2 separate regions of the Homo sapiens genome follow, and region 2 is linked to region 1. Evidence: fine-mapped expression QTL. Tissue or cell type: whole blood. Region 1 holds a variant in brackets; the other region holds the start of a gene. All regions are shown on one strand. Distances are from middle to middle. Region 1 overlaps PMP22 (peripheral myelin protein 22). Region 2 holds the start of PMP22 (peripheral myelin protein 22).

What was found. PIP is the estimated chance that this variant, and not a neighbour inherited with it, causes the effect.
Region 2: it holds the start of PMP22, and the variant in region 1 is fine-mapped to the expression of PMP22 in whole blood (INTERVAL, PIP 0.97).

What each region holds. Positions count from the first base shown.
Region 1 is chr17:15,242,056-15,245,101 of GRCh38, forward strand. The region is part of intron 3 of PMP22 (peripheral myelin protein 22); the gene reads right to left. Among named protein-coding and RNA genes, the nearest start is that of MIR4731, 8.1 kb to the right of the region's middle. The variant T/C (reference allele first, on the strand shown) is at 1,755.
Region 2 is chr17:15,263,685-15,266,442 of GRCh38, forward strand. It overlaps PMP22 (peripheral myelin protein 22), which reads right to left and starts at 1,642. Exons shown (of 5, transcript NM_000304.4): 1 at 1,470-1,642. LOC124903931 (a long non-coding RNA gene) reads left to right here. Exons shown (of 2, transcript XR_007065632.1): 2 at 1,772-2,225.

The DNA of each region.
Region 1 (3,046 bases):
AGCCTGGCCAACATGCCAAAACCCCATCTCTACGAAAAATACAAAAAAATTGGCCAGGTGTGCTGGTGGACACCTATAGTCCCAGCTACTTGGGAGGTTGAGGCAGAGAATCGCTTGAACTCAGGAGGTGGAGGTTGTAGTGAGCCAAGATCACACCACTGCACTCCAGCCTGGGCACAGAGAGAGACTCTGTCTCAAAAAAAAAAAAAAAAAAAAAAAAGAGAGACATTGTAGCTATATTCTAATATAATAGATACACCTAAAACAAGCAACAGTCAAAAACAAAAAAGATTCTGAAAAGAAGCTTCAGGCAAATGTTAACAAAAAAGAAAGAAGATAAATTAATAATAAAAAATAGAACTTATGTTGAAAGGATAAAAGTGGCCAGAGAGTTGTTTGGTTGTTTCATAGAGGAAAGATTTGGTTTATTTGATCTTTACTTCTGGTTTACATGATCTATGACTGAAGAAAATAAATCATTATGCATATAATAACATGGCCTGAAAAAGTTAAAATCAAAAAGTAATCAAAATATGAGAAGAAATTGTTAAAATCACAATAACAGTAGAAGACTTTAGCTTCCTTCCTCAAAATAGATGTCAGGTAGACCAAAAAGAAGAAAGAATATAGATTACATAAGAGGATTAACAAATCTGTCCTAATAGATGTATAGAAAACTTGTGTCTATATAGCAAAGTTATTTTCAAACACACATGGGACAGCTTTTCAAACTGACTATAAGGGCAACAAAGAATATCTCAATAAATATAGAAGCAGAAATGATGTAGGCTCAACATATACCTAAAGGCAAACAGAAATTAGACATTAAAAACAAACTAGCCAAAATAAATTTGGAAATTTAAAAACAGTGTTCCAGATAATTCCTCGGATTAAAAAAAACAAGATGAAAAGTAAAAACTTCTTCAGCAAGGAATTATATAGAGAGCCACATGGCACACCTGTGGGTTGTAACCAAAGCAGTTCTCAGAGGACAATGTATACACTTCTAAGCATTTGCTAGAAAAATCCTTAAAAAGAGTGAACTACACTTTCAACTCAAGAAGCCAGAAAAAAAACAATGAAATAAGTCCAAAAATTAATTGACTTAATATGGATAAAAGCACAGACTAATGAGACAGAAAAAAATATTAAAATACATTTAATAAAAATGTCTGGTTCTTTGGGGATACATCAACAAGTTAGACAAATTTTATTCAAGTACATAAAAGAAGTACTAAAGAAACATACTAAGTTCCTGGATAGAAACACTCAAAGTTATAAAGATGCCAATTTCATCCAAAATAATCTACAAATTCAATGCTGTCCTAATCCATATTGCAACTGGAACTGGAAAAAAATCAATTAAAAATTCATCTAAAAAACAATGAGCAATGACAGATAAGAAAAAATTTGAAGTAAACACAACAGCAACTAAAAACCAAAACGAACAAATGAACAAAAAGAAAATCAGAAAAACATATAAAACCAATGAGTCAAGATACCACCTACCAGATTTAAAACATATTTCTATATTTTGCTTATTACAGTATATGGTATAAATTAAATATACAATTAATTGTAACTTTATAATATATAATTATAGAACATATCATAGAACTATGATATATACAATATATAATTATAGAACATATCATAGAAGTATGATATATAATTATATAATATATAATTATAGAAGTATATATGTTCAAGTGCTTATATTATAATTATATAACATATAATTATAATTAATAAAA[T/C]GTATTTTATTTATAGACATACAAAGCTTATATTTATATTATAAAGTTTTAGCAATTCAAAAATATGGTGTTAATCATGAAAGAAAAATAAAAGAATGGGATGGAATAAGACTTTGGAAGCATACATGTAAATTTGGTAGATAATACACAACATCATATAAACCAGTGGGGAAAAATACAACAGACAATACATAGTGTTGGCTATTCATTTGGTAAAACATAAAATTAAATCTCTAGTTCGCATCATTAACAAAATTAAATTACAGACAGAACAAAGAGAAAACAGCTAAGTATAAAATTGAAAAGCCATGTGATTAGCAAAGGAGAAATATGAACAGCCAATAAACATCGTAAAAGGTGCCCAACCTCACTAGCAACCAAGGAAATGCAAGAGAAACCCATGAGGAGGGTGACACCAATTTTCATCCAGCCAATAGGCAAAATTCAAAAAAAATGGATAATATCAGCAGAACAAATAAGTGATAGCTACCTGCAGACACCATTCACAGGAATAATAATAATATTATTATTATAATCCTTTTGTGACCAGCCATTTTGTGGCAGAATATATTAGGTTGATACAAAAGTAATTGTAATTTTTGCCATTAAAAGTAGTTTAAAAATTGTAACACCTCTAGCGTAATGACACTATATGTGTTCAAGTGCTTATCTACTATATCCTGGAAAAACAGTGAACATATACTCAGAGGAAAATAAATAAGGACATTGATTGTAGCATTTCTATGAGGGAAAATAAATTATGGTATATCCTCACAATGAAATATTTTGCAGCAGTTAAAAAAATCATGAGTTAGAAAATGAAGAGTCTTTGAAAGGTCTCCAAGACAATGAAAAGAGTAAGGTGCACACACAACATGTCATCATTATGAAAACAAACACCAAAAAACTATGTAATTGCGTATAGACATCCACAGGCATGCAAATATTCGTAGAGAAAGAGCCAAAGTTGTGTCAAATTGATGTCAGTGGGTTCCCCCAGGAACTACTGTTGCAACGAAGAAGAGTTTGGTCAAGAAGCCTTTCAGTTGAGGATATTTTCATGTATTATAATACTTGTATTACTTAAATAATTAAAACCAATTTAAAAGATTACAAAGGTAAAAACAGATGCAGCACTCTATTGACTTACTAAGAGTCAGGATTCCAAAACTCAAAGGGCTAGTGGAATTCTGGGCAGGACTGGGCTTCCACATGCCCAGGAAAACAACAAGGGATTTTCCTTTCCTCCAGTGCCATTGATCAAAAGCTACACAAGGACAGCGAGAGGAAAA
Region 2 (2,758 bases), 21 kb after region 1:
AAAGGAGCTGCTATTTTAGCTAATTGTATATTCTTACGGTAAGTAAAAATAAATTTGAAAAAGATCTTCAAACAATGATCTTTTTAAAACTATCGTGTTATCAGATTAAAATGAAGTGTACTTGTAAACACTGCATTTACAGTGCCCGTTATATGCCAAGCACTTTGCCTGGACTTTATATGCATGGTCTGTGAGAGGCAGTATGGTGCAGTGGTTAGGCACTCTGGCTCTGGGCTCCAACAAACCTAATCACCCTGCTTACTTTTGTTGTGAATTTGGGCAATTTCTCAAGTTCACTGAGCTTCAGTTTTCTCAGGTGCAAAAGGAAATAGTAATGCCTGCTTTAAAGGTTTATGGTGGTGATTGAAGGAGACAATATGTACAAAGCAGTTAACATCGTGTCTGCAACATAATAAGGGCCCAGTGCCCAAATTGCCACCACTATTATTATATCACATTTAACTCTCACATCAACCTTTCAGGGAAGACCTGACCACCTCTGCACTAAAGTAGCTTGTAACTCTGATAGGTAGGTAGGTAGGTAGGTAGATAGATAGATAGATAGATAGATATAGATAGATAGATAAAGATTTATAAATGAAAGTGCATATGCAAGTAGAAAAAAAAGTCTAAAGACATGGCAGTGTTTTCTTTCCTCCACAGGTCATTTTATAAGTTAGATTTGCTCTAGAAATTATTACTTTGTTTTATGCCATTTGGACATTTATTTATTTAACCAACACTTATGTGATCACAACATACTCAGGACTGTTCTAAGTAAGCACTTTAGAAATATGAGCATATCTAACTCAGGGTTTTCTTTCCCTTCCTTTGTGATTTTCAAATAAACTTTTTAATAAAGTCTAATACACATACAGAAAAGTGCATATATTGGGTGCTACAGCTCGCTTCTTCCTTTCTTTTGAACCCAATAGTTTAATCAATAACCACCCAGGTCACAGCCACACCATATACTGCCAGACAGGTAAACCCAACCCATCTGTCCCTCACTGCCTCTGGCCTCCTGCCTGGTTCTCAATGGTGGCAGAGGAAGTGCTACTCAGTGCCTGCTGACCAGGCTTGCCACACCCAGAGCCCGGCTGGCCAAGGCTCTGCCACAGGTGGCAGCTTCTCCCTAACCTGCTTACCAAGGCCACCTGCCAGCTGTGTGTGCACAGCTATTTTCCATGGGGGAAAAAGCATCTAGATTCCTTTCTTCCTTTCAATCTGGATGCATTAGGGTTTCTAGATGCTCTCAGATGGCCCCCCACCTCCCCAGCCAGAGTATATATCCACCTTTTAACCAAGGATATAAAAAGCCCTCTGAATCTCCAGTCAATTCCAACACAAATGCACCATCTCTCCTGCAATCCTTTTCATTTGCGGCTTGCAGGGGGTGGGAAATTAGGCAATTCTTGTAAAGCATAGGCACACATCACCCAGAGGCACAGTTTGCCAATAAAACTCACCCGGCCAAACAGCGTAACCCCTTCTTCCAAGCAGATTTCTTTGCAGCCAAATGCAAGGGATGTTAAGGCAAGACCCTCCCCACAGGGCAGTCAGAGACCCGCAGCCGACAGACTAAGCCTGCAGCTTCCAACCAGGCTCCCCGAGATGTTCCCTGGTGGTGCTCCCTGTAACTGAAGCCAGACCAGGCGTCTTTCCAGTTTATTCAGGGGCTGGTCCAATGCTGGGATATGTCATGGTGGCCTGAGAGGTTCTCAGCCTCTATTATTTAAAGAGACAGTGTCCAACTTTGTTTGCTTTCCAGAATACAATAATCCCAAGAGGCCCTGCAGGGCATGGAGAAACTGGAATCAGAAGGGAGAAGAGCTTTGAGTATGCCTGAAGCCTGTGATGCCAAGACTGTTCTCTCTGGAAGTGCCAACCTGTGTAATAGCCAAGAGGTCCCACTGGCTCCCCTCCCCTCCCAGTGAATTCTGCAGAGATTAAATATACTGTGGGAAGGATCTGTGTCTACAGTGTTACATACGTGCAGGTAAGTTTTATTTTAAATAAACTTCCTTTTAAGGAGCCCAAACATTGCACAGCTAATCTCTCACAGCATCACAGCAGTGAGCCAAATGTCTCAAGAGTCACCAAATCAAGCCTCCTTTGTTCCAACCCCTGGTTGGAAGGACTCCCTGTTACCTGCCTTGTCTGCCTAGACCCCATCGCAAATGATCACATGTGTTGTACATTAGAATAAAACTTAGGGAAATGTGTTCTTCCGACTCTGTCTTTAATGTGCCCGAATCAAGCTGACCTTCATGAGATAATTCAATGCAAGTAAACGAACCTCTATTGAAAACTATTGAAAACTTTCTAACCTGTCAGGCAGAATAGGCTGGAAGAGCAATTGGAAATTCTTGGAGAGGGAAGTAAAGGAAGTTATGGCATATTTAGGTTCTTTGCAGCGTACCACTCCAGCTCCCAGAGAGTCCTCCATCCCTTGAACCGCTTCTAGCTGCAAACTCTGACACAAGAGGACTGGTTTCATTGCATGAGTTTCCTGGAATTCTGGCACTTGGGGCATAAGACTTCCTCTTGTGTTAGGGATCCCCAGTCTGGAGAGACCTGCAGAATTTGGAGGAGTCCCTCCCTGTCACACACTTTACGTTTGATTGGACTCTCCAGTCACAAGGGCCTCTCAATGGCCCTCTCCCCTGTTCTGCCCACAGCCAGCATCTGCTCACAGCCAGCATCACAGCCAGTGCCAATAAAATAGTTTCACCTTTCTCTCTTTGCTGAAATCATT